7 linked regions of the Homo sapiens genome follow. The protein of the gene in region 4 purifies or fractionates together with the protein of the main gene of each other region. This does not show direct contact. Each region holds a gene or a part of one and is shown on either strand. Other genes may lie near its edges. The genes, in order: DCAF4, IARS2, CCDC88A, WDR62, SH3RF1, ASPM and BCL7B.

Region 1 (4,444 bases), on a different chromosome or scaffold from region 4:
GGAGCGGAGAGGACAGGGGGCGAAGGGGTGAGGAGCCCACCTTTTTCCGTCTGTCTTCTTCCTGGAGCAGCCGCAGTCTCTTGCTCTCCATCTCCTTCTGCCGGATGCTCTCTTTCGTCAGGGGGTTGCAGTTGTTATGTCCAGGGAGCAAGCGGAAGTAGCGTTTCTTTTCAGGGTCAAAGTAAAACCCAGGTAGCTCTTTAGACAAAAAAATTAAATGCACCAATTTCAACCACTGTGAACTGACCACCTGAGTTGGGCGCCCAGTGGCCTGTCCCCCCACCTCGTGGCTGCCTGTCTTTTCTGAGGGCGGGGATGAGCTGCCTTGTCAGGCAACATCCTGGACTGTGCTCAGTCCTGGGGGAGGCGGTTTGCCTCATGACCACCATTCCTGACGCACCCAGCTCCTTCCCTGAGTGTTTCAATTTGCTCCTGGAATTCCTTCCAAGCCAGGAACGGGTCTCAGCCTTCCCTGTGTGCAAGGGCCAGGATTCCCACCCCGCAAGTGGCCTTACCTGGCACAGAGGAGGTCCCAGCTGTGCCAGACGAGGTTGACGGAGACTCGTCATCACCGTGGCCGGAATCGTGAGCGGGCTGTGCTGCCCGGGAGTCAGACCTGTTGACACACAGCTGTGTTAACTTGCAGCCCAGGACTTGAGTTCCAGCCATTCTGACGGGGGCAGGGAGTCCATTCGGGCAGTTCTGCAGCCTTCACCTCTGATCTCTGACCTTTCTGATTACTTGAGAAGCACTGATCCCCTCTTGCAAATACAACAAAATAGGGCAAGGTTTTGGTTTTTCATTCTTTTTTCTTTCTTTAAAAGAGGACAGATGTCACAGTGATTCCCTCTTCTTATCTTCTCACTCGCGCATTTTGTGAGGTCTTGTGGAATTTTCCAGATTAAAAGGAAAAATAGAAATCTCTGCCAATAAGAATTTTACCAGCTGGGCTCATTTGTCAGCACAACAGCAGTTACAAGGCTAGGTGAATTTCATTCTTTATTGGATTCAGTAGCACAAAGAGTTTAAATTTTACTTGACTACACAATCTTACAGACAGAGAAACTGGGGTTTGGGGGACAGAGGTGATTAGTTCAGTAACACTGGGATAGAGCTGCGGCTAAAACACTTGATTTGTAAATCCACAAGTAGCTTCTGAGGGAATTATAGGCTGAAGGATGTAGTAAAGGTGTGTGCCACCACACCCAGATAATTTTTATATTTTTAGTAGAGACGGAGTTTCGCCGTGTTGGCCAGACTGGTCTCAAACTCCTGACCTCAAGTGATCCGGCTGCCTTGGTCTCCCAAAGTGCTGGGATTACAGGCGTCAGCCACCACACCCGGCCCAGCCAACTTTATTTTAAAAATACATTTAATGTAGCCTTGGCCTGGGTGGTGGTTCAAGTCTGTAATCCCAGCACTTTGGGAGGCTGAGGCAGAAGGATCACTTGAGCTCAGGAGTTTGAGACCAGCCTGAGCAACAGAGTGAGACCTCATCTCTTAAATAAATAAATAAATGTAATGTAGCCTGGTGTACAGGGTTTTAAAGTCTACACTAGCATACAGTAATGTCCTAAGCCTTTGTGTTCACTCATCACTCACTCACTGACTTCCAGTCCCGCAAGCTCTGTTCACAGGAGTGTCATACATAGGTATACCATTTAAAAAAAAATCTTATATACCCTATTTTTACTGTATCTTTTCTATGTTGAGATACACAAATACCACTGTGTACTGACTGCCTCTAGCATTCAGTAGTCACATGCTGTACAGGTTTGCAGCCTCGGAGCAATTGGCTACACCATATAGCTTAGGTGTGTGTGGCTGGCTGTACCATGTAGGTTTGTGTTACGTATGTGCTATGATGTTTGCATGACACGACTGCCTAACAACATATTCCTCAGAATGCATTCCTCCTTGTTAAGCGAAGCATGAGTGTATATCCTTGTCCGAGACTTAGGCTGAATTAATAAAATTTGGTTTCCACAAAGGTATTTGCATAAAAAGTCTACAAAATGGAGAAACGGTTTTCCAGTTGTTTCAGATAACGTCTACCTCTAGCTTTATGGCGAATGCTCTGGCCAGAGGTCGTGGTCACTTAGGAAAGAACAGAGAGTGGTCCTCTCTCCTCACTACTCAGTGAGGTGGGCTGACCCACCAAAGCGACATGCCCTGGGAGCACGTTAGGAAGGCAGGCTCTCCTCAAGACCCCTCAGACCTACAGAATCAGAACCTGCATTGGGACGAGCCCCCAGGTGATCTCCACACCTGTGATCGTGTGACATGCCATGTGTACAATGCCAGAAGCACACTGGGCAAAAGTGGCTCCCCAGAGCGGCACACTTGCCTGTCTTCAGAATCACGGAGTCTGAACCAAGGGTTCTGCTGGTGGCTTCTTCTCCCATGTCGTCTTCTACTCTGCCAGCGACTTTTATTCATTTCTGTTCCTAAAAGAGAAAAACAAAAAAATCCATACATCTCTGTGTGTGGGCATGGGCTTTTCTGTTTGCTTCTTGGCAGCTGCTTCATGCTCAGCACCAGCAAAAGGCTGGCCCACCCTGGGTTATCATCAGATTTGCCACAGCAAGCCTTACCTGGGAAGGGCTGCCTCCAGCACTCCCCCAACATCCTTCCCACTTCCTTCCTGTTACCCTTAGTCGACCACATAGTTTCCTACCCCACAGAAACGTTGCCAGGTCGGCCAGGCGCGGTGGCTCATGCCTGTAATCCCAGCACTTTGGGAGGCCGAGGCAGGCGGATCACGAGGTCAGGAGTTCGAGACCAGCCTGACCAACATGGTGAAACCCCATCTCTACTAAAAATACAAAAATTAGCCGGGAGTTGTAACGTGCACCTGTAATCCCAGCTACTCAGGAGGCTGAGTCAGGAGAATCGCTTGAACCCGGGAGGTGGAGTTTACAGTGAGCTGAGATTGTGCTCACTGTAAACTGCACTCTAGCCTGGGCGACAGAGCAAGACACCATCTCAAAAAAAAAAAAAAAAAAAAGAAAAGAAAAATTGCCAGGCATGAAACCCCTAACTTCACTCCCTTCTGCTCCACAAATACCTGCCTTTACTAATTGTCTTCTTCCTTGTCTTGGACAACAGGTATCACTGCTCCTTTTCAAGGGAGACCCATCCCACCTGGCTGTTGATTTCATTCCTTCCCAGGAACTGCAGACATCTATCTGTTCCCCCATATGTTAATGTCTCCTTCTCCTTATCTCAGCTTTTAAAAACATGCCCAGGTTTTTCATTTGTAAGTGTTCCATTTCTAATCCAAAAAAATGGGCATATTCTGAAAGAATGGTCTACATCTACGAATTCAATGTCTTCATCTCCCGATATTCCTCAACCCACTGCAGTTGAGCTTCCTCTCTCCTCGCCTTTCTACTAAAATGCTCTTGCTATTGATTACCTACTTGCCAAAGTGAGTGGTCTCTTTTTAGCCCTTATTCCTGCAACATGTGGCACCAGGAGGCTACATTCTTCCTTTGGCTTCTGTAATATCTTTCTCTTGGTTTTCTTCTTGCTAAATAAATCCTTTGCTCATTTCTCCTGGGTCACACACCCTGTATGTGCTTTCCATTGTTCTGTCCTAGATCCTTTTCTTTTCAGACTTAACACCACCTCATCTACCAATGCAGATGCAGCTCCAACCCTAATATCGCTACTGAGCACCAAGTTCCTATGCTGCTTCGTGTCTATCTCCACAGACCCAACAGGTTCAAAAGTGAGTTCATGATTTCTCTCTAACCCCCGATCTGCTCTTTTGCCTGTCTATACCTCTCTTCTCTGAAAGCAATATCCCTGCCCCTGCAGCCCAAATGTGTGTGTATTTTTTTTTTTTTTTTGAGATGGAGTCTCGCTCTGTTGCCCAGGCTGGAGTGCAGTGGCGCCATCTCAGCTCACTGCAACCTCTGCCTCTCGGGTTCAAGCGATTCTCCTGCCTCAGCCTCCCGAGTAGCTGGGACTACAGGCACCTGCCACCACACCCAGCTAATTTTTGTATTTTTAGTAGAGATGGGGTTTCACCATGTTGGCCAGGCTGCTCAAGAACTCCTGGCTTCAAGTGATCTACCTGCCTCGTCCTCCCAAAGTGCTGGGATTACAGGCGTGGGCCACCAAGCCCGGCTCCAAAACTTTTATCTTATTCATTGTCCTAAACAATGGCTCCTGAACACCATGTGTGGGTTTCCCTATGGATCAGTTATCTTATACCCCAGCTAAAGAATACAGTTGTATTTATTAATAGTTAAGTTACAAGCTGAAAGGGACTGCGCACAGGAAGGGAAGCACGTGTGGCCAGTGTTAAGACTGGTAGGAAAATGGCTGCGTGCAGTAGCTCATGCCTGTAATCCCAGCACTTTTGGGAGGCTGAAGTGGGAGGATCTCTTGAGCCCAGAGTTTGAGACCAGCCTGGGCAATAGAGTGAGACCCCATC
Region 2 (4,444 bases), on a different chromosome or scaffold from region 4:
CAAAAGTCCCAAATTATAGCTCACAAAGAATTATTTTGGGCTAGGCACAGTGGCTTACGCCTTTAATCCCAGCACTTTGGCAGGCCAAGGCAGGCAGATCACTTGAGCCCAGGAATTCCAGACCAGTCTGGGCTACACAACAAGAATTCATCTCTGTAAAATATTTTTTCAAAATTAGCCGGGTGCAGTGGCATGTGCCTATAGTCCCAGCTACTTGGGTGGCCAGGGCAGGAGGATTGCTTGAGCCCGGGAGTTTGAGGCTGCAATGAGCTGACTGGACCACTGCATTCCAGCAGTGGGCAACAGCATGAGACCCTGTCTCTTTAAAAAATAAAATAAAATAAAATTCCTTTGATAGAAGAACTGCTTTCTGAATAATTTTCAGAACTTATTCAATCCTTTATTAAAATTATGTATCGAAAAATAAGTATATGCATTTCCTTTCTTGCTACTTTTATTAAAACAGATAAAAACAATTTTAAAAATTAATTTTGCATAAAATTTTACCAAGTAACTACTGGATATTGCCAGAAATTAGTTTTACCTGTTGTACATTTATCAATATTCATATTTTTCTATACTCCTATCATGCTTAATGTATATTCTCCTTTAGTGTAATCAATGTAAAATGTATTCTAGAAAGGTAGAGGCCATATCTGTTTCAATTCAAAATATGCAGTTCAGCAAAGTAGTAAATTCAAGTCAGCCCAATACTTTGATGACTATGTTGTCAGATATCTAAAAATCTTCACCTGAAAGTGTTGAAATAGTCTCAAATGTTGTTTCCAAAGTAGAAGCAACAGATGCTACTTTATCTGCCGCCAGTACGTAGAGGTCTCCAGACTTAGAACATTTCACAACAGCATACCTAACATAAAATTTTAGGAGAAATTACTAATAATGAAACAAGAAAAGCCACAGATATCATTTTAATTTTTAAATAATCATTTTAGAAAAAACTGACTTCAGGCCAGCGCGGTGGCTCATGTCTATAATCCCAGCACTTTGGGAGGCCAAGGCAGGTGGATCACCTGAGGTTGGGAGTTTGCAACCAGCCTCACCAACATAGAGAAACCCCATCTCTACTAAAAATACAAAATTAGCCTGGCGTGGTGGCGCATGCCTGTAATCCCATAATCCCAGCTACTCGGGAGGCTGAGGCAGGAAAATTGCTTGAACCCGGGAGGTGGAGGTTGTGGTGAGCCAAGATCATGCCACTGTACTCCAGCCTGGGCAACAAAAGGCAAAACTCGGTCTCCAAAAAAAAAAAGAAAAAAGAAAAAACTGACTTCAAGATCAAACTGTACTATTTTCAAAACACTTTGTAACTTATACTTCTATTTCATTTTCCCGAAAAGCTGGATAAGGTCATAAAAAGGATCACCTAAAGGTTAATAAAATCTATATGAACATAATAACTAAGTTATAATTCATTAAATTTTACAATAATAAACAGGATAAAATAAATTCAAAATAATGTTAATAATGGAATACATTCTATTTGTGTATAAAACAAAAAATGCAATAATATACCCACTTTGATTCAGGCATATAGCAAACAGCTTCATTGGCTGGAATCGTCCAAGGTTGTGTGGTCCAGACCAAAATACTAACAGGAGATGAACCATCTGTGAAAATACAATTGTAAATATGTTAGCAAATGGGATAATTCTATAACTTTGGTACACTCAAGCTATGAATAAATCTTACCTATAAGAGATGCCAATTTTGGAGAAGGCTTTAAGAGAGGAAATTTTACATATATTGAACGACTGACATGCTCAGGATTATATTCAAGTTCTGCTTCAGCCAATGCAGTCCTAAGGGTTAAAAATATTAAACATAAATACTTGGAAGCCTCACAAATTTCTCCCTTTTAATTACCGAAAAATGCATATATACCTAGATGACGGAGACCAAAACACAGGTTTGTAAGATCGATAAACCAAGCCCTATAAAAGACAAAAATATGATGTTAAAAGTAGAATCTTGTAACGCATACTAAAACCTACTCAAAGAGAAAAAATACTTCTTTACCTTATCATACATTTGGTAAAAAGTTCTCAACTGTTTGGCTTCATACTTCCCATCAAATGTATAGTAGCAATTATTCCAATCTGCCATTATTCCCCAACGAATAAATGCTGATTTCTGTTTCTCAATGGCTGCTTTAGCAAATGATCTAGCTAAAAAAAAGACGAAAAAAAGATTTTAAAAAACCAATGAATTCGAATTCTTAAACATGGTTTAGCATGTATCTCTCTAAATGCAAATGCTACAGACAGTTTAGAATGCAAATTTTTTTTGAGACACAGTCTCGCTGTCACCCAGGCTAGAGTGCAGTGGCGCGAGTGGCATGATCTCGGCTCACTGCAAGCCTCTGCCTCCCGGGTTCACGCCATTCTCCTGCCTCAGCCTCCTGAGTAGCTGGGACTACAGGCGCCCGCCACCACGCCCGGCTAATTTTTTTGTAGTTTTAGTAGAGACGGGGTTTCACTGTGTCAGCCAGGATGGTCTGGATCTCCTGACCTCGTGATCTACCCGCCTCAGCCTCCCAAAGTGCTGGGATTACAGGCGTGAGCCACGGCGCCCGAGCACAAAATTTTTTTTTTTTGAGATGGAGTCTTGCTCTGTTGCCCAGGTTGGCATGCAGTGGCGGATCTCAGCTCACTGTAACCTCTGCCACACAGGTTCAAGCAATTCTCGTGCCTCAGCCTCCCAAGTATCTGGGACTACAGGCGTGAGCCACCATACCTGGCTAATTATTTGGTATTTTTAGTAGATACGGGGTTTTGCCATGTTGGCCAGGCTGGTCTCAAACTCCTGACCTTAGGTGATCGATCCACCTCCCTCAGCCTCCCAAAGTGCTAGGATTACAGGCATGAGCCACTGTGCCCAGCCTATAAAAATTTTTTAATAGAAAAATAATTTGAAGGTCAACAGTGTTCAGAAGATACCTACAACAAATTCTAAAATTAACTGGAATTGCAAAAGTTAAAATTTTATTACTGTCTTCTGTATTTTCCAGACTTTATACAATGACCTCATATTTAGGACAAATAAACTGGAAAAATTATTCCTTATTGTTTCTTAATTTAAGAAAAGGTCAGATAACAATTTTCATTTCATTATACACAAAAAATTAATCAGAATATCAAATCTAAGCCAATGATAATAGGTTTCACAAGGAAGTAAAAAAATCTTCACAGTTACATCCAAATGTACAATAGTATAACATATAAGAAAAAGAGAATCCTCCCTTGGCCCAGTCGACTGAAGAAAAAGGATCAAATAAAAGATTAATGTAAAATATATGTATTTTAGAATTGAATTTTGGCTTAACACCTAAAATCAGTCAACAAGCCCCCTTGAGGAAAGCAGAAAAAAGAATTTACCAAAAAATAGTTTTTTAAAATATGAACATTAAGAAACTGAGAATGCAATCAGAAATGCTCACAAAGTCTTTCCTTCAATATCCAAACATAAGTTCTTACAAAAATCAATGAAATAAAATCTGAATTTTCTGTGACAGAAAGGCGTTTCCAATAGATCTTATTATAAGCAAACGAAACCCAAACAAAAGGTTCCTTTGGTAAAGTTCTGACTATTTCAAGGACCTGAGTGTTTACAAATATCATTTTAAAACAGAAATACAGATTATTTACCTTTCTTTCTAATTTCCATAGCTGAAAGATTCTGAGCTTCTCTACCAAGTTCTGATAATACTTTTATTTCAATGGGCAACCCATGACAATCCCAGCCGGGCACAAAATGTATTTTGGAGCCATTCATCATATGGAATCGATTGGCTATGTCTTTCAAAATCTGCAAAGATAAAATGATAATTATCATTCATACATAAAATATTTGGCCATGTATTTCAAAATCTGCAAAGATAAAATGATAATTAGCATTCATACATAAAATATTTGGCCTACAATTTATGTTCTTTTTTTTAAACTTAATACCATTTTTAAAACTGCAATTTGAAAGGAAACGTATAAATTAACTCATAAAAAAACTATTGACACAAATAGTCTAATATTATTTATATTGAGCTAAGAAATATCATCAAACCATTGCAGAACTTACAGTGTACTCAGAGAATGGAATATTGTGGTTAACTCTGTCATTGACAAACCCTTACTAAAACAGTAGACCTCTTCATTAGGTATAGTTCTAGAACCAATTTACCTTTTTAAATTCATTTTAGATACCAGAGGGCAGCAGAGCCTTTTAAAAAATATATTACTATAGTTGAATGGAGGAATCAAAGGCAAAGGATAGATTTGGCTCCAAGCTCAATTTCCTTCTTCCCAAGAGGAAACAGTGCTCTGACCACTAGCCCAGTAGTCCAGAAAACAATTTCCTCCTTTCCATGCCTATCAAAAGTAGAAAAGATATTATTATATTCTCCTCCCATCCCTTCCCCCCTTTAAAAACT
Region 3 (4,444 bases), on a different chromosome or scaffold from region 4:
TACTTAGAAACTATTCCCATATTAATTGATCTTTGAATGAACTAGCCCTTCATCCCTCTCACTGAGTATTACATTTAGATCCTGATGAGAGAGCTCTGCCCTGAGTCCAACTCCGGCCCTCCTCGGCCCACATGCTTCCACTGGGAGAGGAGTCCATGTAAACAGGGGGATGTGCCTATATACCTCCCTTTTTTTTTTTTTTTTTTTTTTCAGACAGAGTCTCACTGTCACCCAAGCCGGAGTGCAGTGGCGCAATCTCGGCTCACTGCAACCTCCGCCTCCCAGCTTCAAGTGATTCTCCTGCCTCAGCCTCCCGAGTAGCTGGGATTACAGGGGCCCGCCAACATGCCCTGCTAATTTTTGTATTTTTATTAGAGACGGGGTTTCACCATATTGGCCAGGCTGATCTTGAACTCCTGACCTCAAGTGATCCACCCGCCTCAGCCTCCCAAAGTGCTGGGATTACAGGTGTGAGCCCCCAAGTCTGGCCTACCTCCCCACTTTTAAATGACACTCCAGGTGCCCAGAACTTTGCAATTTCTTGCCCAAGCACTTCTAACTCAATTTGAAGGCCCACACAGGCCTCTTTCCTAGGTCTGTCCTTAGAAAAGACTGTGCTACACTTGTGTACACCCTTGGGCCAAGGAGTACTTGTTTGGGGATGGGAGTACAAGAGCTTAGACCTTGTGCGTGCATGCAAGGTGTTCACAGCATGTACAGGAGACCTCTTTGTGGTGCTAGAAAGAGCCAGAGATGACGGGAGGAGGTTGGGCTTAACCACACTCTGCTGCAAAACTGTGAATTTATGAATTCTAAATTCCACAGATTTTAAATTTGAAACTTTCAAGTCATTATGAAGGTATATTTATCAAGAGAAAAGACTAGAATATAGATAATGATTTGTTGGCCTGGTTTATAAGCTTTAAATATTTAGGCCTATTGTGGTAAATGGATGCTTATCCTGGATCTTACAAATGTTAGGGGCAGATCTCCTCTCACTCAGAGTGAAGTTGATGGGTTTTATCCACCTATTTTTATTAATTATTAAAGTAGGCCAGGCACACTGGCTCACGCCTCTAATCTCTGCACTTTGGGAGGCTGAGGTGGTGGATAGCTTGAACCCAGGAGATTGGAACCAGAATGGGCAACACAGCAAAACTCTGCCTTTACAAAAAACAAAAAACAAAAAAAAGAAAAGAAAAATTAGCTGGGCATGGTAGTAGTCCTAGCTACTCAGGAGGCTGAGGTGAGAGGATCGTTTGAGCCCAGGAGGCAGAGGTTGCAGTGAACCAAGATCTCGCCACTGCATTCCAGTCTCGGCAAGAGAGAGAGGCCTTGTCTCAAAAAAAAAAAAAAATTATTAAACTAGTAAAATAGATCTAAGAAGGCATAAAAATAGAATCAGGAATAAAGAGAACATTTAAAGTAATTTTCCAGTTTCAATAACTAGCTAAATATTAAATGATTGATTCAGGATTTAAACTTTCAAGCCCATGTTTTTGTTTTTGCCCTCCCACCACTCTGACTCTCCAAAAGCAGCCAGTTTACTAATTAATAAATTAAGTATTATACAGATGTCCCAGTACCAAGTATAATCTCAAATACTATTTCTGAATATTGAAAACTTAATGCCTAGAATGGTATCAAACTGTTTCATGGATCCTAAAAGAAAGTCAGCTGGTGTCCTTTTGAAAGAACTGGTCTTCCTTTCCATTTATCCTGTGAGAACTAGTCTCCCATAATATATATTAAGAGAAAATTTTCAGTTAAAAAATTTAAAAATACTCTCAGGTATAACAACTAGTTCACCTGTTCTTCTCTAGGTTCTCATCATTTCTGTAGTTTAACTACATATGAATCATATTGAGAATGAGGCAATCACAATGGACTTTTCTTGAAGACAGTCCAATACAAAGCTGTGGACAAAAAAATCTCAACATGGCCCAGGCACGGTGGCTCATGCCTGTAATCCCAGCATGAGATTTTGGGAGGCTCAGGTGGACAGATCACTTGAGGTCAGGAGTTCGAAACCAGCCTGGCCAAAATGGTGAAATCCCGTCTCTACTAAAAACACAAAACTTCACCAGGCACGGTGGTGGGCACCTTGTAATCCCAACTACTCAGGAGGCTGAGACAGGAGAATTGGTTGAACCTGGGAGAAGGAGGTTGCAGTGAGCCGAGATCACGCCACTGTACTCCAGCCTAGACGACAGAGTAAGACTCCGTCTCAAAAAAAAAAAAAAAAAAAAAAAACTCAACATATTGGACAGGAAAGTTATTGGAAACCAAACTGAAAGCACTGTATATTCTAATACTATAAAAAACCATGGACCATGAAATCTTGCTCCTATCACCTTGCCTCAAAGGAGATATAACATCGGTGGGAAAAATATCCAATAAAGGTAATTAAAACAAATACGGGGAAAGAGAGAGAACAAACAAAAAGGAGAAACAGAAGACAAACTAAAAAATAAACTAAATTCTACAGTACTAAAACTAGAAGGTATTCTCAAAATTTTGAAAATTAATAAAATTGCAGCTATCTTCACTTATTCCTTCAACATTTACTTACAACTTACGACATGCCAACTTCTATGCTAGGTGCTAGTGATACATGCTAAGTACTAGGTTAGGTGCTAGTAATATGTGAGACAAAACATCTAGCCCCTAAACAGTAATACTGCAAAGCAATAGCTACGCAGGTGAAGGTACTTCCGAATCATAAGGAAGAAAACAACTCTGCCTGGGGACTTCACAAGGTATTAAAGGAAGAGCAGGAATTGGTTAGTCAAAGAAAAGGGGAAGGATAGTCTAGAGCAGGAGTCTCTAACCCCTGGGCCATGGATTGGGTCCATGGCTTGTTAGGAAAGCCACACAGCAGATCAGTGGTGGGCGGGCAAGCATTACTGCCTGAGCTCTGCCTCCTGTCAGATCAACAACAGCATTAGATTCTCACAGGACCACAAACCCTATTGTGAACTGTAGATGCGAGGGATCTAGGTTGCACTCTCCTCATAAGAATCTAATGGCTGATGATCTGAGGTAGAACAGTTTCATCCTGAAACCATCTCCCCTCAGCCTTGCTCCATGTAAAAATCGTCTTCCATGAAACCAGTCCTTGCTGCCAAAAAGGTTGGGGACCGCTGGTCTTGAAGAAAATAATTCTAATGATAATAATATAAATAAAACAATAAAGAGCTAACATTTATTGGACACTTTCTATATGTTAAGCATTGTACATACATTATTCTATTTGATTCTCATAACAATCCTGTGACTTTTTATCCCACTTACAAATTAAGTAACTTACTAAAGATCATACAGCTATATAGAGGTGACACTAACAGAGATCATACAAAACTAAGCTGTCGGCCAGGCGCAGTGGCTCATGCCTGTAATGCCAGCCACTTTGGGAAGCTGAGGTGGGAGGATCACTTGAACCCAGGAATTCAAGACCAGCCTGGGCAAAAAAGTGAGACCCGGTCTCTATAAAAAAAATTTTAAAAAATTAGCCAGGTGCAGTAGCACATGCCTGCAGTCCCAGCTGCTTGGGAAGCTGAGGTGGGAGGATTGCTTCAGCCTAGGAGTTTGAGGTTGCAGTGGGTTGCGATTGTGCCACTGCAGTCCAGCCTGGGTGACAGAGTGAGATCCTGTCTCAAAAACAAACAAACAAACAAAAAAACTAAGCTGTGAACTATCATGATTTACTTGAGGAGCCATAAGTAGGTAGATATAGCATAGCACAGGATAATAATAATGACAGCAACCAGCACTGGGGATATAGTGGGTCAACAAAACAGAAAATAGACTTATCTGTCCCTGCCTTAGTAGATAATCCTTCCCCATCAGGAAGGGAAACATTATCTCCCATCTTATAAATGTAGGAACTGTAATTTGGAGATATTAGGCTCACATACCAATAAGTAGCACAGCTAGAACTGAACCCAAGTCTATGTCTATCTGACATAAGGCTCAAATTCATTCCACTTTACTACACATGGCTGTATTATTCAATCATTCAACAGAAATATATCAAGAATGTACTGTGTGTCAAACACTGTCCTAAGAATACAGAGACAAAAGATAGAGTCCCTGGCTTCAGGAAACTCACAGCCTAGTCAATAGAGTCAAGCAAAGAGTCAGGCTGGTTTGTGCCTATAATCCCAGAACTTTGGGAGGCTGAGGTGGGTGGATCGCTTGAGACCAGCCTGGGCAACACAGTGAAACTCCATCTCTACAAAAAATACAAAAATTAGTCAAGCATGGTAGCGCGTGCCTGTGGTCCTAGGTACTTGGGAGGCTAAGGTGGGAGGATAGCTTGAGCCCGGGAGGTGAAGGCTGCAGTGAGCGGTGATCATGCCCCTGCACTCCAGCCCGGGCAACAGAACAAGACCGTCTCAAAAAACAAAAACAAAAACAAAAAAAAAAAACAAGCAAACAAACA
Region 4 (4,444 bases):
TAATGCACACCCACTGGTGGCCAAGGGCGGACACCTGCATACCATCTACTATAGATCCAGGCCACCCACTCCACTGCCTACAGGGATTAGGGAGGCAACACAGGTGTGAGGAACTGGCCACAACGGGCCTGACAAATTTCACTAAGCTCAGCCCCTCACTGCCACAGGGGAATTTGGGCCCCAGAGGCCAGAGAATTTCTCACTTCTCCAAACAAAAGGGACATTTGGATTTTTGTGTTAAAAAACTTGAAATGTTGTCCACTTATCCAACCTTTAAAACATACTATATTGGGCAAGTGTGTGTGACTCTGGTTTGTAGCTGCTGCCTTATGAATGCTCTCCCAGTTGGAGGCAGCTATTTTATTTTCAGAGGAGACCAAGGCTCTGAAAGAAGTGTCTCACCTGAGATTCCACAGTGAATAGACGCTTGAGCCAGGAATGGAACCCAGCTCTGCCCTTATCACCAGTAACAGAACCCACAGTTAGGAGCAAAAGGTCCAAAAAGCCACTTTCAAGAGGGAATGCACTTCTGTCAGATAACAAGAACCTGCCGTAGCTTAAGGACCGTACCTTAGGGACCATAAGGGCAGGAGAAAACCCACTCCTTATCCATCCACCTGGAGAACTGGGCCAAAGGAGCTGAGCCTGAGCTATGCCAAGGAGGGACATGGTGTGCCTTCCAAAGGTCACAGCCCTATTGGGACCACATCCCCAGGGTAGCAGTGATCAGTTAGCCCCAAGGCAGAGGAGCGGGTCCTTCCCCAGTAAACTTATAGCTGAAGGGATCTTTCTAAAACCCAAATCATGTTAAGTCTTTCTCTTAGAAAATAGCCATCAATATGCCAGATACTGCTCTTTGGTGCTAGGGACACAGAAATGAACTCAGAGAAAGTCCCTGCTCTCAAGAGTGCTCACACTGAGGGAGACCCACAGTGAATACCATCAATGAGGAAACTGGACAGCATATCAGAGATGGGAGCAAATTTTGTGGAGAAAAGCAAAGCAGGGAATAGAGCTGCTGGAGGGCTGGGGGTGAAAAGCACATTCCTGGCCTGTGGTGCCCTCCTGTGGCTGCTCTCTGCACTCAGCATGCTATGCAGACCCTCTACAAGGCTGCAAGGCCTACGGGATGTGGCTTCTGCCTGGTCCAGCCTCATCTTCCCTGCTCCTTTCTCCAGGCACCCAGATCCCTGGCTGCTTCTAAAGCGCCGGAGATTCTTAACCACTGCAGGGCCTTTGCCCTTCCTGTGCCCCCTGCCTGAAGCGCTCTCCCTACAGCTTCTTATGGGTCACCCTCTCGCTTCCTTCAGGTCTCAGAGTCAAGGCAGCGTTCCCTGAGCCTTCTGATAAGGCTTTCCTCCTATTCTCTGCCCACAAACCTGCCCGAAGACATCCTCCATCATTTCCTCCATAGCACTGATCATGATCAGCCCGTAATTTGCTGACTAGTTTACAGTCTGTCTCGCTCTAGCCAGCAGAGATTCTCGTCTCCTCTGGTCACTGCTGTGTCCCCAGCACACGGAACAGCACCCAGCACAGGCGAATGCTGCTGAGCCAACATGTAAGTGAATGAGTGAGCACCTACCCATGAGTATCTCCAGGCTGTGTAGGGGAGGGGAGGCGTGCCAAGCCCCTGGTTCCACCCCTGCCCCGGGCCCAGGCCTCAGCCTACCTGGCGGTGTTAAAGATGTGCTGCTGCTTGTTCTCCTTGGGGTCCAAAATCACCACCACACAGCTGGGAAGAAAGAGGAAAATGTGCCTCAACTGTGGGGAGTGTTGGGGTCCTGGGATGATTCTATTCCCACCAGAAAAGCCCACAAATAAACAAGCTCCCTCGGTTCTCTCTGGTCTCCTCCTCCTCCCCCTCCTCCAGGTGTTTACGCTGAGAATTCTAGGGCACTTTAACATTGCTATGTTCTTAAATAGAAACCAACACTTCCTCTGAGGTAATGTCTGTCAGGCCCTAGGCTAATTAAGACCTTAAGCTGGCTATAATCCCAGCACTTTGGGAGTATGGGGCAGGAGGGATCACTTGAGCTCAGGAGTTTTAGACCAGCCTGGGCGACAGAGTGAGATCTCATCTCCACTAAAAAAAATTAGCTGGCTGTGGTGGCATGTGCCTGTAGTCCCAGCTACATGGGAGGTGAAGATGGGAGGATCGCTTGAGCACAGGAGGTTGGGGCTGTAGTGAGCTGTTATTCACACTATTGCATTCTAGCCTGGGCAACACAGCCAGACTCTGTCTCAAAAAAGCAAAACAAAACAAAAAGAGAGAAAGAGGGATGTAATTGTTTTAAATCCTCACAACTGCCAGGTCAGGTCACGACTATTTAGGCCCATTTATAGATAAGGAAACAAACCCAGAGAGGGGACGTCCTTAGCACAGTGCCAGGCTACATGAGTATTTATGGAATGAACAGCTGTAGCATCTTCTTCAGTCTTCTCAACTATGCAAGCAGAGGGGGTCACCAGCTCTGTTTTACAGAGGCAGAGGAAGAGGCTCAGAGAGCAGCATACATGGCAGAGCTGGGACACAAATCCAGGTTACCTGACACCACAGCGTGGACTTTAATCACCTGTCTTTCCCAGAATCGCTGTCACCTCCCCCCTGTAGTCATAATAAAGGCTTTCATTGCACTCACTACATGCCAGGAACTGTTCTAGACAGAGAGGGGGCTATGGAATCCTCTCCACAGCTCTCAGAGGCAGGCCCCATTCTCCACATTCTACAGGTGAAAAATATGAGGCTCAGAGCGATTTACGGATGGCTTCAGGTTCCAAGCTCCAAATTCCCTAGCAATGATTAGACGTCGAGGCCCTTATCTGCTTACCCTGCCAGGTAGGCCACATGGCCTGTGCCGGGGTCACAGGTTAGGCCACTGCTGTTCTGGGCTGTGATGCCAAGCACCTTCTCGAGTGACACCTGCAAAGAAAAAGCCCAAGTCAGAGGCACCCACCCTAGCCAGCACCACATGGTGCAGCCGCCTTGGCCACCCATTCAGGTCCTGCTACATTCAACACCCACACTGAGCTTCTGTGGCCACGCCATCCACCAGCAGCTAACACTTGTTCTCTCAACATTCCTTTGACAAATACAACGCTAGGTGAAAAGCACAGAGTGGTGAGGAAGAGACAAATCCCTGCCCTCGGGGGGCTCACATTCTACTGGTGATGGGTATGTAGAACATAGAAAAGGAGCAGAACAAATATGTGAAATAGATGCCAAGTAATGATGGGTGCAAGAGAGAAGAAAGCAGATAAGGAGGTTAGGAGCACAGGGGAAGGGGGCGAATGCCGCGGTGAGAAGGTGACCTGTGAATAAGTTTCTAAGTACTTTTTTTTGTTTGTTTTTGAGATGGAGTCTTGCTCTGTCACCCAGGCTGGAGTCAGTGGTGAGATCTTGGCTCATTGCAACCTCCGCCTTCCAGGTTCAAGCAATTCTCCTGCCTCAGCCTCCTGAGTAGCTAGGATTACAGGCACATGCCACCATGTCCGGCTAATTTTTGTATTTTTAGTAGAGATGGGGTTTCACCATGTTGGCCAGGCTGGCCTCGAACTCCTGACCTCAGGTGATACACCCGCCTCGGCCTCCCAAAGTGCTAGGATTACAGGCATGAGCCACTGTGCCCGGCCTCTTAGTACTTTTATATGTATAAAAGACTTGAATCCTCCCAACAAGCCACGAAGAAGGCTCTATTATCACCCCTGTTTTACAGGTAAGAAGTCTGAGGCCCAAGATCCTACATCTGCAAGTGGCAATGTTGATATACAAACCCAGGCAGTCTGGCTCCAAAGCTAGCACTTTGGGCTGTACAGGAGAGACACAGTAGTGACCAAAGGTAGACAGTTTCCCCACATCAGATTCACAGTCCAGAAATTTGAGCGGTTTCAACGAGTAAAAAACCACATGAACAGTAATATTTAAAATTTAAACAAGGCTGGGTGTGGTGGCTCAGTCAAGAGTTTGAGACCATCCTGGCCAAGATGGCGAAACCCTGTCTCTACTAAAAATACAAAAAAATTAGTCAGGTGTGGTGGCCCATGCCTATAATCCCAGGCACTCAGGAGGCTGAGGCAGTAAAATCGCTTGAACCCAGGAGGCGGAGGTTGCAGTGAGCTGAGATGGCACCATTGCACTCCATCCTGGGCGACAGAGTGAGACTCTGTCTCAAAAAAAAAAAGGAACAAAACAGTTGAGGAAACAGAGGCCAAGAGGGGTTACCCATCCAGGAAGGGGTAGTGCCAGGATTCCAACACAAACAACCAAGCCATGGCACTCATGTTGTCTTATCTGTCGATCAGCATTACTGGGCCCTGGTATGAATGGTCACTTTTAGACTAGGTCTTTGCAAGACAGATCAACTCTGTGCTGCCAAACAAAAAAAATAAATAAATATTACCCCAAATACACAGTCATAATATCAGTATTAGCTAACATGAATAG
Region 5 (4,444 bases), on a different chromosome or scaffold from region 4:
GAACTGCCCCAAGGGCCACGTAGGGTGAAGGGTCAGATGGGTAGGATAGATAGGAAGTGCTCTGCATTTGGGATAAGAAAGAGGGACCATTGGGACTGAGACGATTAGCAGGGCTTCAGAACAGATACGGGATTGGAGCTTGTGTCAAAGAATGGAGAGATCGGGAAAGAAAGGTAGGGAATTCTAGATATGAGGGAACACACATGAAATTTATTTTCCCCTGTAAATGCTGTGTCTGCTTTCATTTCTCCATAGCACAGTCATACCTCCTTTCTCCCTCTTTCCCTGTTGCTGACTGTTAGGGGCTGAATTATGTCCCCCAACATTGCTACGTTGAAGTTCTAACTCCTAGTACCTCACAATGTGGCCATATTTGGGGATAGGACCTTTAAAGAGGGGGTTAAGGTAAAATGAGGTCACATGCATGGGCCCTAATCCAGTAAGACCAGTGTTCTTATAAGAAGAGGAGATGAGGATGCAGACACATAGGGAAGACCATGTGAAGACACATGGAGAAGATGCCACTTACCAACCAAGGAGAGTTGCCTTCAAAGGAAGCCAACCCCACTGACACCTTGATCTTGGACTTCCAGCCTCCAGAACTGTGAGGAAATACATTTTTGTTGTTTAAGCCACCCAGTCTGTGCCCTTGGATGTAGTAGCCCTAGCCAACTTGTACTCTGACTGTAGACATACTCCTAAAGGTCAGCCCCTTGAGTGGCCTCTCGGTCCACTGCCAATCCCTTCAGTCCTGGTTTCCCCAGAAACTGGCAGTGGTCCAGCCTTCTGTGTTCTGTCATGGAATACCTTTGAGAAGTTGTTCAGCCCCTCCCTACTCCCTCAACTACCCACATTGCCTGGCATAATTTCTTAAAATAGACAGGCATGTTATAAGGAAGTTGAAGTTTATGTGACAGTATACCAGATGCACAGAAAGTTCTGGAGGAAATGAAGGAAATATTGAGAGGGGAAAACTACTACTTTCTTATCTCTGACAAATTGGATTGATCTGTAGCTGGAGTCTGGAGAGAGTGCTTTCCAGGACTCAGTAGTACCTAAGGCATTACTCAAGGGATAGGTAATGATGGACAAACCAGATACAGATCCTTACTTGGTGCTTTCCAGGGCTAAGTAGCACCCTAGTAAGGCATTCTAGGCTTTATTCCAAGGAATGGCATTGGCAGAAAGAATTGAAGGAAGTAGTGGGAGAAAGTTAGGACAACTGAGTTGCTCCAGGTTTGGTGTGGAAAGCAACTGCCAGCTGTGAACTGTGCCGTGGGACATCTTTGACATCCATCTATGAACAAGCACCTGTAGAGAGCTTTCAGGTCCAGTTATGTTCAATAATCTATACTAGGTCAAAGATGACATTAATGCATGTTTCTGTTGAAAAAGTTTACATTTGGGGGAGGTAACACACAAGAAACAACAAGTAAGGCAGCAGATAGTGAAGCATCAGGGGGTGGGATAAGATATAGAATAAGTCTCTATCTATGATGGGGTTCTTTTTTGTAGTTCGTGGTCCTTGGATTAAGTGCATGGTCAAAGAATACCAAGTGTGGACCAGAGTGGTTGGGACATGCTCCCCTGGCGTGTAAGGTTCACTACAAACACTGACGGACAAAGGAGTTGTTGTCTTCGCACAGATGGGGATGGGGATGTGTATTAACTCATACCGGACCCAAGCAAGACATTTAATGTGGTGGTTTGGATGAGGGAAATGTTTCTGTGTGTTTCAGAATGATTGAATTAAAACGGAAAAGGTGGGTTTTGTTTGTTTGTTTGTTTTGGCTAAACCATGTTTGTTGCATGCTTGACCTCTTATTTTATCCATCCTTGATCCTTACTCCAGGCTTCATGTCTGCCCCATCCCTGACCTTTACTTCATTCCTGAGCTAGGCTTGATGGTGAGACTCGGAGATGAGATCTTGAACAGGGTAGAAGGAAGGTATGGGAAAGGGGGTCTGTGGTGCATACTAATTGATAATTTTTTTAAAAAAGTAATGATTCTTTTTTATATCACATAAAGTGTCATGTAACCATAATCATGTAAACCTCACAACAGCTTTCTGGGGTCAAGTGTTATCATTTTATTTATTTATTTTTTTGAGACAGAGTCTCACTCTGTCACCCAGGCTGGAGGGCGATGGTGAGATCTCAGCTCACTGCAACCTCAGCCTCCTGGGTTCAAGCGATTCTCCCACCTCAGCCTCCCAAGTAGCTGGGATTACAGGCGCCTACCGCCATGCCTGGCTAATTTTTGTACTTTTAGTAGAGGTGGGTTTTCACCATGTTGGCCAGGCTGGTCTCCAACTCCTGACCTCAAGTGATCCACCCACCTTAGCCTCCCAAAGTGCTGGGATTACAGGCGTGAGCTGCGGCACCCAGCCTAAGTGTTATCATTTTTAAAATGAGAAAGAATGTAGATTTCAAAATGTATGTAAAAGCATTCTGGTTGTAAAAAAAAATTCAACCATATAGAAGAATATGTTATTAAGTGTGTATATACTTGCAGATCTTTTCATATACATTTATATGTGTATGCATATAGTTTCTTGATTTTTTGCAGAACTAGAATTTCATGCTCTGGAGATTCAATGATTTGCTAATTCATTTACTATATCTATGAAATCTCTTCATGTTTAAGCACATAGACCTACTCCAGTTTTTGAAAAAACTCTTTATTGATGTATAATATACACATAGAAAAGTGTACTAATTATGTGTACCATTCATTTAATTTTTCATAGTATTTTTCTCATAGTATTTTTACTCATAGAATTTTTCTTCATAGTATTTTTCTCATAGCATTTTTCTTTCTGTTTAAAAAATACTCAGTGTAAGAAAAATACTCATAGTATTTTTCTTTGTTTTAAGAATTAAAAATAATACATGCTTATGGTAAGAAATGTAATAGTAGAAGATGATGTAAAGGAGAAAATCAAGGCTTCCAATATCTCTACTCCTTTGTTCCTAATCTCTAGGGGTAACCACTGTCACAAGGTTTTTTTGTGTTTTCTTTCAGACAAAAAATTGAATAGAAATGGAATCACATTGTATATGCAGTTCTGCAACTTGTGGTTTTTAATTTAATGATAAAACTTGGATAGCTTCCGTATCTACTCACATTGATCTATAAGAAGCTATTATGCATTCTTTTTTTTTTTTTTGAGATGGTCTCACTTCTGCCCAGGTTGGAGTGCAGTTGGAGTGTTTACGGCTCACTATACATTATTATTCTTATTTCATGGATGTAGGAGGGGTGGCTGAAAGACTTTAAATAACTTGTCCAATTTCTGATCCCAAATGCTTCCTTCCCTTACCTGCAGTTGACTTAAGTGACAAACATTTTCCCTGGGACCTCATGTTGCTTTTAGCAGGGGAATCTTTTCTCAGTTGCAGCTGGCAGAGGTTATTCTTTCCTCACTGTCCTTGCTTCCTATTTTGTTTTGACAAAAAGAGGACAAATAAAGCTCCTTTACAATGACAGTGGACCAGGAAAGCAGACTCTCCTTAGCTTGATGTATGGGGAAGAGTGTGGTTTGGAGGTCAGAAGTTGTGGCCTCTGGTTCCAACACTGCCATGGGCTGGCTGTGGGGTTTCTCTGGGCTTCATTTCTTCAGCTCAAAGATGCGGAGCCATAGGGACCTAAGCTCCATGCAGAGTGGTTGTGGGAATGGGGCTGGTGAGGGGGCTGAGTTTGGTCCATCTTTGACTTTTCAGAGCCCTTTGTAGTGTCTGGCACAGAGTACACACTCACAAGAGGTTTGTTGAATAAATGAGTGAATAAGTGAGTGGAGTACCAACCTCTCTAGGGATCCTTAGCTGTATATTTAATTTCATTTCTATTTGGGATGATGAGAACCAAAGTTACTGAAAAGATACCGAAAAGATTATAAAGTGGATGTAGTGTTTGGCTGTAGAGCTACATAAAATACAGACATGAACTCAGTTATGTTGGTTTCCTGTGTGTGAAAAGTAGCCTGATGCAGATCTCTTTGGCAACCCTGATCCCCCACCCGTCCCAGTTTCCTTCATTTATTATCACTATTGCTCCAGTCCTTATTTATTTATTTATATTTCTCTTTTGCGTGACTGAAGGAGAGAAATTATTCTGTTACTGCTGGCTGGGCAGGGAAAAGGAAAATCCGAGGGAAAGGGAGGAAAGAGATAAAATCTAGTTTTGCTTTAGCTGGAGGTCCGTCTTGTTCTTGAGTTTCTTTGAAAAGTTCCACCTCTGCCCTGGCTCTCTGGCTTTAGCACTTCATCCCTGGCTTTTGCATCAGCTGCTATAGAACCTGTGTTGAGTGTTAACTTCTCTGCCTTGCAGCACCTTGCACTGCCCTGGCCTGCAACTGTGGTCTGTTCTTTCCAAGTGGCTAAAAGAGGCGCAGTGGGGAGCCGGTAGAACAGACAGGGGGAGCAGGAAAGCAGTCCTTCTCCA
Region 6 (4,444 bases), on a different chromosome or scaffold from region 4:
GACTGAATAACACAAGCAGCTCTAATTTGTCTACATAAATTATGAGCTTTCAGTCTCCTAAAAGCAGCTTGTAATTGAATGGCTGCAGCTCGTTTCTGCAAATAGTTGGTGCGCTCAATCTTTCCTTTCAGATATGCTTTGTAGTACTTCTGGATGGTTAGTATGGACTCTTTTCTTCTTTTATATAACTTTTGGGCTTGAAAGCACCGAAATCTTTTCTGAATGATAACAACACAAGATCTAATATAAATATATTTCCGTAATTCTTTATGCATTCTATACCATGATTGTATGATAATAGCAGAATTTTCTTCTTTAGCTTGTTTTCTTAAATGCCATTCTCTAAAAGCTCTTTGCAATATTACTGTAGCTTTTACTTGTGATTGCATTTTACGTTGCTTCCATTTTCTGAACATAGATTGGATTATAAGAGTTGATGATTTTAGCATTTCATATCTTTGTTGATCTTGTTTTCTTCTTAAATAAGCACGCCAATGCCTCTGAATTGTAACTGTAGCCCAAAGATATCGTTTATAAGATGTAACAGCAATTATCATTCTTATCCTAGATTGCAGGATGATTGAATAATATTTCAATTTCAGAAATCTTTGTCTAGTGGAATATCTTCTCCAATATCCCTGGAAAAGGTAAGAAAGGACACAAAGTAAAATAGGCATAGCTTTCTATATTTAACACTTTTCAAAATACTAATTTTTCTAACATTCTGCTTAAAAATAAACACATTGAATTAGAAAACTAATTATTTTTGTGAGATATTTGTCTCTTTTGTTTTTAGTTTAGGTTTTACATTGATATACCTGTAGCCAATTCAGAAATCCATCCAAATCTTCATTATATTTAAATACTGCATTTGTATGCCAGAATCATAAGAAACATAAGCAAGTTTATGTTATATTACAAGCAAAAGAGTCAAAATAAAACTATAGTAATATTCTTTGCTATCTATTGATTCTAAGTAATTTCCTATGAGTTTATTTCTGGGCCTTATATGGTCCCCTTACTTCAATGTTTCTAAGCTACCTTATAATGACTAGAAACTGTTTATGTGAAGGATCCTGCATTATCACATTACAGGCCTGATAATATAAATATAGGAATTTAGGAATAAATAAACCAGATCACTCTCAGAGTCATTATTTTCATTAAGAATAAAATTACTTCCTTTTCCCAAATTTAGGAACTATAAATACATGGCTTAAAAGTAGAATTCTAGAAAGACTTGAGAAATGACAAAACTTTTGTCTTTTGAAAAGCCATGGTTACAATGGCTAATCCAACTGTATGTTGGCTCAACAAAAAGAGCTACAAACTCTCAAGCTAATTCCAGTTGCTGGTATCTAAAATGGTCCCAGGCTAATGGTAGTCAAGTTCTAGATGTTTTAGCAATAAGACCATTCCTTTGTACAAACACTCCAAACATTGCTGAGATTGGGGGTGGCATGGAGAGGTTGTTCTCTACTACATCTTACTTTTTCTCGCATATAAGTAGAGTAATATAGGGACTGGGTACCTCGCTCTCCTATAGCAGTATCGAGTTTGCTTGCAGCTATCACTGGCCTAAGCATACCTATCCATGGGTGAGGAAGCTTAAGGAGAACATGCACATCCCTTTTCCTGACCCTTTTCCTGTAAGTTTTATTGTCTTCTTCCTCTACTAAATGTTACCTGAGGTTTTGTTCATACTCTTCAACCTGACAGGAAATGATTGTATACATTTTATCTTACCAAGAAGAGATGCACAAGTTGTCAAAATATTTATCCAACAACAGTCAAACTTATTTGTACAAAAGTATTTTGAAAACAATAAACTCTACATAAAGTATTAACTTGCTTTAAATTAGGGCAAAGTAAAGCAGTAATAGTACTCAGAAATTCAGATATTATTTTTCTTTTGAGCACCCACCCCCAACAGATATTTCTATGTAAAATCCTCAAACTAAGAAATTGAAGAATCAGTGTGTACAGATTGTTTTATACTTTAATAATCACTTTTTCTACATTACTATTACTACTCCATTACTGAAATGTTAATCAATGTTGATATATAACATGGAAGATATGATCATCTCCTCTCCTAACAGTTTTGCTTATTACAATAGCAATTTTTTCACCATTGTCATACAATTCTTAAAAATAAATAGCTTTTACTAAGGAACACATTACATACAATTTTCTCACTTAATTCTCACAAAAATACATTAAGTTGGCATTGTTTCTTCACTTAAAGAAAGGAACACTAATGTTACAAAACTTTTTGCAAAGTCCCACAGCAAATAAAAATAATTGATCTTAGGATCTACATTATTACACCAAAATCAAATGTTCTTTCTACTCTACCACAGATATCTGCAGCAGGTTGAGTGCATTAACAGCCCAATTCTTCATCTCTCCCAGTAACTATAACCTGTGCCATACTTTGTTTTTCCTCATACAAAAGAGTTTCTCTGCTTGAGATATGGGCGCAGTCATGGAAAGAATGCAGTAGAGCAGTGTAACTCAATCTTCAGTTTTCTGGTCAGATGATGAAACAAGGCAGCCCTGAGGAACTAGAGGGTACCAGGGAGATGGTAGAGACTGGGGAGCTCAGGGAAGCAATCTGATAATGTTGTTTATGAATTTCTAGGTTCACCACCAAGTTGTGCACAATGTGAATCTAGACCACAGTAGGCTATAGACTTTAAGAATTGAATAAGATACAGATCACAATCTAGATCCCAGACTGGCTACTGGGTGTTACATAATGAAACTGATATGATACAAATATCACTCACTGTAAAGGCTTTCAAAAAGGAACTGTCACTGAAGCTACGCTCATGGAAGGCTGATGAGAACAGGTGGCCTGAACCCAATCAAGTGAATTAGCTGCTAAAACTAAAATATCAACATTCTCCATAGGATTTAAACAAAACATAGAGTCTGATAACATAACATTAAATTTCCAGAATGCAATTAAAAATTATTTGACATACAACATAACAGAAAAATTTCAACTCTCACAAGAAAAGATAATCAATAGACACCAATGATGAGATGACAAAGATACTGGAATTGGAATTAACTGACAACGACTTTAGAGCAGATAAAGTAAAAATGCTACAACAAGTTGAAACTAATGGAAAGATAAAAAGTCTCAGTAAAGACATCAAAGATATGAGTAAGAACCAAGTGAGAATAGTAGAACCGAAAAACACACTAACCAAAATAAAAATTCACTGGTATGGCACAATAGCAGAATGGAGATGACAGCCAAGATGGCAAATATCTCAGCTTTGTGGGCCAATTCTGTTGCAACAAGTCAATTATGCTATTGTAGTACAAAAGCAGCTCCCAAATAATACATAAACAAATAGTTGTGACCATATTCTAAAAAACTCTATTTATAAAAACACATGGTAGGCCAAATTTGGCCTGCAGATATACCAACCTCTGACCATGATAGACCATATTGTGGATCATAAACTAAAGGTTATCAAATAGGAAAGAATTGAAATCACAGTATGTGCTCTGGTCATAATGGAATTGAAGAAAAAGTCACTAACAGAAAAATAATAGGAAAATCTCCAAACATTTAGAAAGTAAATAACATATTCTGAAACTTTAAATCATAGAAAAAGCCTCAAGAGAAATTAAAAACTATTTGAACTGAATGAAAAAAAAATACCATATCAAAATTTGTAGTATGTGGCTAAACCTGTATTTAGAAGAAAATTTATACCATTAATGTGTTACATTAAAAGTGGAAGGACTCAAATCAGTTACTCAAGATTATACTTAAAGAAACTATAGACAGAAAAGCAAAATTAATCAAAACAAGAAATAATAAAGACTGAGCAGAGACCAATGAAGCCAAAGGGTTGTCCACTGAAAAGATCAAGAGAGTTAAAACTCTAGCAAGACTGACAAAGAAGAAAAGAGAAGATACAAATTATCAATATCAGGAATGAAAAAGGGAATATCACTACAGACTACCCAGGCATCAAAAGGATATTAAAGATATACTTTGTATATACATATGGTAAATTCAACAACTTGGATGAAATGGACCAATTCTTCGAAAATTAGAAACTGCCAAAACTCATCAAAGATAAATAGTCCTATACAAATTTAAAAAACAGAATCTGGCAAGGTGTAGTAGCTCACACCTGTATTCCTAGCACTTTAGGAGGCCAAGGCAGGAGGATGACTAGAGCCCAGGAGTTCGAGACCAGCCTGGGGAATTTAGTGAGACCCTATCTCCACAAAAAATACAAAAATTAGTTGAGTGTGGTGGTACATGCCTGTAGTCTCAGCTACTTGGGAGGCTGAGGTGGGATGATGGCTTGAGCCTAGGAGATTGAGGCTGCAGTGAGCTGTGTTTGCACCACTGTACTCTAGCCTGGGCGACAGAGCAAGACCCTGTCTCCAAAAAAAAAAAAAAAAAAAA
Region 7 (4,444 bases), on a different chromosome or scaffold from region 4:
CACACCATTCTCCTGCCTCAGCCTCCCGAGTAGCTGGGACTACAGGCGCCCACCACCATGCCCGGCTAATTTTTTGTACTTTTAGTAGAGACGGGGTTTCACCATGTTAGCCAGGATGGTCTCGATCTCCTGACCTCGTGATCCGCCCGTCTCGGCCTCCCAAAGTGCTGGGATTACAGGCGTGAGCCACCACGCCCGGCCCACATATTTAAGTTTTGTTTAAACACAAAAATACACATATGAAACAATGCTATGTATTTTTAAAGAATATACAGGTATCCAAATACATCCAACAAAGATGAAGCACAAAGGTCTACACCAGAATTAGAAAGATGTATATACATATGATACACACAATACAGTGGGGGACTAATCGCATAAGAGCAAGTATCAGCAAACTTTTTCTTAAAGGGTCAGATGATAAATATTTTAGGTTTTACGGGCCATTTGGCCTTATGGCAACCACTCAATCTGCCACTGTAATTCAAAAGCACCACAGACAATAAGGAAATCAGTGGGCATACTTATGTGTTTGGTTTTTTTTGTTTGTTTGCTTATTTTCGAGATGGTGTGTCACACTGTTGCCCAGGCTGGAGTGCAGTGGCGGGATCTTGGCTCACTGCAACCTCTGCCTTACAGGTTCAAGCGATTCTCCTTGCCTCAGCCTCCTGAGTAGCTGGGATTACAGGTGCCTGCCAGCAGGCCTAGCTACTTTTTTTGTATTTTTAGTAGAGACAGGGGTTGCACTATGTTGGCCAGGCTGGTCTCGAACTCCCGACCTCAAGTGATCCGCCCACCTTGGCCTCCCAAAGTGCTGGGATTACAGGCGTGAGCCACCACGCCCAGCCAGTTATGTTCTAATAGAACTATACTGACAAACCTAAGGAATACGCCAGGGCTGTAGTTTGTCAAGCCCTGGAAAAGAGGCTTGGGTTAAGGGAAAGGAATAAAGTAGGAAAATAATAAAGAGAGGCCTTGCATGGACCAATAACAGGGTACCTTGAAGTATTTTCCACTCAATTCTGGGCAAATAAATTCCTTTAATTAAAAGGCAATTAGGCCGGGTGCAGTGGCTCACGCCTGTAATCCCAGCACTTTGGGAGGCTGAGGCAGGTGGGTCACGAGGTCAGGAGTTCAAGACCAGCCTGACCAACATGGTGAAACCCCGTCTCTACTAAAAATACAAAAATCAGCTGGGTGTGGTGGCAGATGCCTGTAACCCCAGCTACTTGGGAGGCTGAGGCAGAGAACTGCTTGAACCCAGGAGGTGGAGGTTGCAGTGAGCCAAGATCATGCCACTGCACTCCAGCCTGGGTGACACAGCGAGACTCCGTCCCAAAAAAAAAAAAAAAGAGGCAATCAAATAAAGAAATAAAGAAAATGGTATCTTTTGATTTTCTTCCACACTTACCTCCTTGCTGTCTGTCACAGGAACCCACTTAAATATCCTCAGGGACGTGTCACCCACAGTCACCCACTTCTTCTCCCTAAAAGAAAGACACTTCTTAGAACGGATAAAACAATGCAATGTGTTTTCTGTTCATCACTTGTGTTTTTCTACTACTCAGCAGATCATTCCTTCAATCTGGAATCCTTCTGAACTTCCTCTTGGTGGGGTATGGTAGCTCACACCTGAAATCCCAGCACTTTGAGAGGCTGAGGCAGGAGGATCACTCAAGCCTAGGAGGTTGAGAACAGCCTGGGCAATTTAGCGAGACCTCATCTCTAAAAAAAAAATACAGGCCAGGCGCAGCGGCTCACGCCTGTAAACCCAACACTTTGGGAGACTGAGGTGGGCAGATCGCTTGAGGTCAGGAGTTCGAGACCATCCCGGCCAACATGGTGAAACTCTGTCGCTACAAAAAAAAAACAAAAAGTAGCTGGGCGTGGTGGCGTGTGCCTGTAATCCCAGCTACTCCGGAGGCTAAGGTGGGAGGATCCCTTGAGCCCAGGTGGCAGAGGTTGCAGTAAACTGAGATCACGCCACCACACTCCAGCCTGGGCAACAGAGACCCTGTCTCAAAAGAAAGAAAGAAAAAAAAAAGGATGTGGGACATAAGGCTGGAAGGTAGCACACACAGCACCATATTCTTTTTTACTTGCATGCGAGTTACTTTGAGTGCTTTTCTCTTTACCAAATATATGAGTTCTATTACTACATTCCTTTTCTTTGTTTGTTTTAGTGAGACAGGGTCTCGTTCTGCCTCCCAGGCTGGAGTGAAGTGGCACAATCATAACTCACTGCAGCCTTGACCTCCTGGGCTCAAGCAATCCTTCCACCTCAGCCTCCTGAGTAGCTGGGACTAGAGGCGCACACCACCACGCCCAGCCAAATTTTTATTTTTTGTAGAGATGGTTGGGGTGGTGGGGTGGGGGTGGGGGGTCTCTCTTTGTTGCCCGCGCTGGTCTTGAACTCTTGGTCTCAAGCAGTCTGCCCACCTTGGCCTCCCAAAATGCTGGGATTACAGGCATGAGCCACCACACCTGGCCTCCTGTGTCCATTTAAAGACCCTTCCAAGGGGCAAACAATCTCAGGAGAGACACCTGCTGCTGGGGGGTATGGCCTGGTGGGTGTGAAATGTTAGGAACCTTTCCCTTTCTGGGTTACTAAGACTGCATAAAGAAAAAGAAAACTAGGCCAGGCGCGCTGGCTCACACCTGTAATCCCAGCACTTTGGGAGGCCAAAGTGGGCGGATCACGAGGTCAAGAGATCGAGACCATCCTAGCTAATACGGTGAAACCCTGTCTCTACTAAAAATACAAAAAATTAGCTGGGTGTGGTGGCACGCACCTGTAGTCCCAGCTACTCAGGAGGCTGAGGCAGGAGAATTGCTTGAACCTGAGAGGCAGAGGTTGCAGTGAGCCGAGATTGCGCCAATGCACTCCAGCCTGGGTGACAGAGCGAGATTCCGTCTCAAAAAAAAAAAGAAAGAAAACTAGTCTAAAGAAATTTTTAAATTTCAACTTTGAAGTTCAAAGCTTTGTAGAAATCCTGTCTCTTGCTGTGTTCCAAAGGGGTAAAAATGGCAGAGTTTATCAGTCCACTACGCTCACGAAATAAGCAAAGGGATAAGCCTTGCACAAGGTCACTCTCTAAATGACTAAGGACCCCCAACTATCTACACCAGATTAGAATGCCACTGTTCTGAGCTTACCCACAGAGTGCCTTCGAGGTCTGCAAACAAATGTGTGGAGGAGATAGAACAAAGGAGACTTTTTTTTTTTTTTTTTTTGAGATAGGGTCTCCGTCACCCAGGCTGGAGTGCAGTGGCGTGATCACCACTCCTTGCGGCCTCAAAATCCCAGGCTCAGGTGAATCTCCCATCTCAGCCTCCCAAGTAGCTGGGACTACAGGCCACCACGCCCAGTTAATTTTTTGTATTTTTAGTAAGGATAGGGTTTCACCATGTTGCCCAGGTTGATCTTGAACTCCTGGGCTCAAGCGATCCTCTTGCCTCAGCCTCTCGAAGTGCTGGGATTACAGGTGTGAGCCACCGTGCCCAGCCTCTCCTTCATTCCAAGAAGGTTATTCCCTAAGCGTGCAGGCAGAGAACAAATTTGCTTATTTTAAGGTCCACCAATACCTTAAGAGGTACTTGCTGTCAGTAGGAACAAGGGTCAAATGCAGGGAACTGCTTTGTCACAGATCTGAGCCAACTTCTCAAAGAGTCAAGTCCAAATATGAAGTCACGAAAAAGCAAAAAAAAAGCAACTGCTGTTGTAGTTGTTGATGCTGTTCAGCAAATGATGACATAATAGGGCCGGGCACGGTGGCTCACACCTGCAACCCCAGCACTTTAGAAGGCTGAGGTGGGTGGATCACTTGAGCCCAGGAGTTCGAGACCAGCCTGGGCAATATGGTGAAATCCTGTCCTCACTAAAAATACAAAAATTAGCCGGGCATGGTGGCGCACACCTGTAGTCCCGACTACTCAGGAGGCTGAGGCGGAAGAACTGCTTGAACCCCAGAGGCGGACACTGCAGTGAGCCAAGACCACGCCACTGCACTCCAGCCTGGGTGACAGGCAAGACTGGGTCTCAAAAAAAAAAAAAAAAAACAGATGACATACTGGGAGTGTAAAGAGACTGTGATGTAACAGAAGGAGCGAATTAAAGTCTTAGAAAATAACTAAAATTAATTCCTGAACAGACCACTCCATTTTCTCATTTATTCAACCAATTAGTATACAACAGGCTGTGCTAGGCCCTGGTGATGCAGGGAACAAGATCCACAGTCCCTGCCCTCACAGACCCTGTCTTATATCTGGAAACAGACATGAATAGCTCAATTCAAGATTAGTCACTTAATCATCAGGTTCAACCATATCAAATTGCCATTTTTGTAGGTTAATTAGTCAAATACAGGAGGCCAGGCACAGTGGCTCACATCTGTAATTCCAGCACTTTGGGAGGTCATGGTGGGAGGACCACTTGGAATTCAGG

The links.
Region 1: the proteins of WDR62 (region 4) and DCAF4 purify together in Homo sapiens (co-immunoprecipitation; one large-scale study listed by IntAct). This does not show direct contact.
Region 2: the proteins of WDR62 (region 4) and IARS2 purify together in Homo sapiens (affinity purification with mass spectrometry; one large-scale study listed by BioGRID and IntAct). This does not show direct contact.
Region 3: the proteins of WDR62 (region 4) and CCDC88A purify together in Homo sapiens (affinity purification with mass spectrometry; one large-scale study listed by BioGRID and IntAct). This does not show direct contact.
Region 5: the proteins of WDR62 (region 4) and SH3RF1 purify together in Homo sapiens (affinity purification with western blotting; one study listed by BioGRID). This does not show direct contact.
Region 6: the proteins of WDR62 (region 4) and ASPM purify together in Homo sapiens (pull-down; one study listed by IntAct). This does not show direct contact.
Region 7: the proteins of WDR62 (region 4) and BCL7B purify together in Homo sapiens (affinity purification with mass spectrometry; one large-scale study listed by BioGRID and IntAct). This does not show direct contact.

What each region holds. Positions count from the first base shown.
Region 1 is NC_000014.9:72,935,974-72,940,417, reverse strand, and holds part of DCAF4 (DDB1- and CUL4-associated factor 4), read right to left. Parts: intron 2,469-4,444; exon of another isoform or gene 2,448-2,468; coding exon of another isoform or gene 2,440-2,447; coding exon 2,348-2,439; intron 617-2,347; coding exon 516-616; intron 199-515; coding exon 41-198; intron 1-40. UniProt on the Homo sapiens protein: May function as a substrate receptor for CUL4-DDB1 E3 ubiquitin-protein ligase complex.
Region 2 is NC_000001.11:220,099,871-220,104,314, reverse strand, and holds part of IARS2 (isoleucine--tRNA ligase, mitochondrial precursor), read right to left. Parts: intron 3,826-4,444; coding exon 3,666-3,825; intron 2,187-3,665; coding exon 2,038-2,186; intron 1,953-2,037; coding exon 1,903-1,952; intron 1,821-1,902; coding exon 1,711-1,820; intron 1,629-1,710; coding exon 1,538-1,628; intron 869-1,537; coding exon 753-868; intron 1-752.
Region 3 is NC_000002.12:55,409,551-55,413,994, forward strand, and holds part of CCDC88A (girdin), read right to left. Parts: intron 1-4,444. UniProt on the Homo sapiens protein: Bifunctional modulator of guanine nucleotide-binding proteins (G proteins). Acts as a non-receptor guanine nucleotide exchange factor which binds to and activates guanine nucleotide-binding protein G(i) alpha subunits.
Region 4 is NC_000019.10:36,057,259-36,061,702, reverse strand, and holds part of WDR62 (WD repeat-containing protein 62), read right to left. Parts: intron 2,924-4,444; coding exon 2,832-2,923; intron 1,736-2,831; coding exon 1,673-1,735; intron 1-1,672. UniProt on the Homo sapiens protein: Required for cerebral cortical development. Plays a role in neuronal proliferation and migration.
Region 5 is NC_000004.12:169,260,331-169,264,774, reverse strand, and holds part of SH3RF1 (E3 ubiquitin-protein ligase SH3RF1), read left to right. Parts: intron 1-4,444. UniProt on the Homo sapiens protein: Has E3 ubiquitin-protein ligase activity. In the absence of an external substrate, it can catalyze self-ubiquitination. Stimulates ubiquitination of potassium channel KCNJ1, enhancing it's dynamin-dependent and clathrin-independent endocytosis.
Region 6 is NC_000001.11:197,104,548-197,108,991, forward strand, and holds part of ASPM (abnormal spindle-like microcephaly-associated protein), read right to left. Parts: intron 639-4,444; coding exon 1-638. UniProt on the Homo sapiens protein: Involved in mitotic spindle regulation and coordination of mitotic processes.
Region 7 is NC_000007.14:73,550,756-73,555,199, forward strand, and holds part of BCL7B (B-cell CLL/lymphoma 7 protein family member B), read right to left. Parts: intron 2,915-4,444; coding exon of another isoform or gene 2,793-2,914; intron 1,488-2,792; coding exon 1,412-1,487; intron 1-1,411. UniProt on the Homo sapiens protein: Positive regulator of apoptosis. Plays a role in the Wnt signaling pathway, negatively regulating the expression of Wnt signaling components CTNNB1 and HMGA1.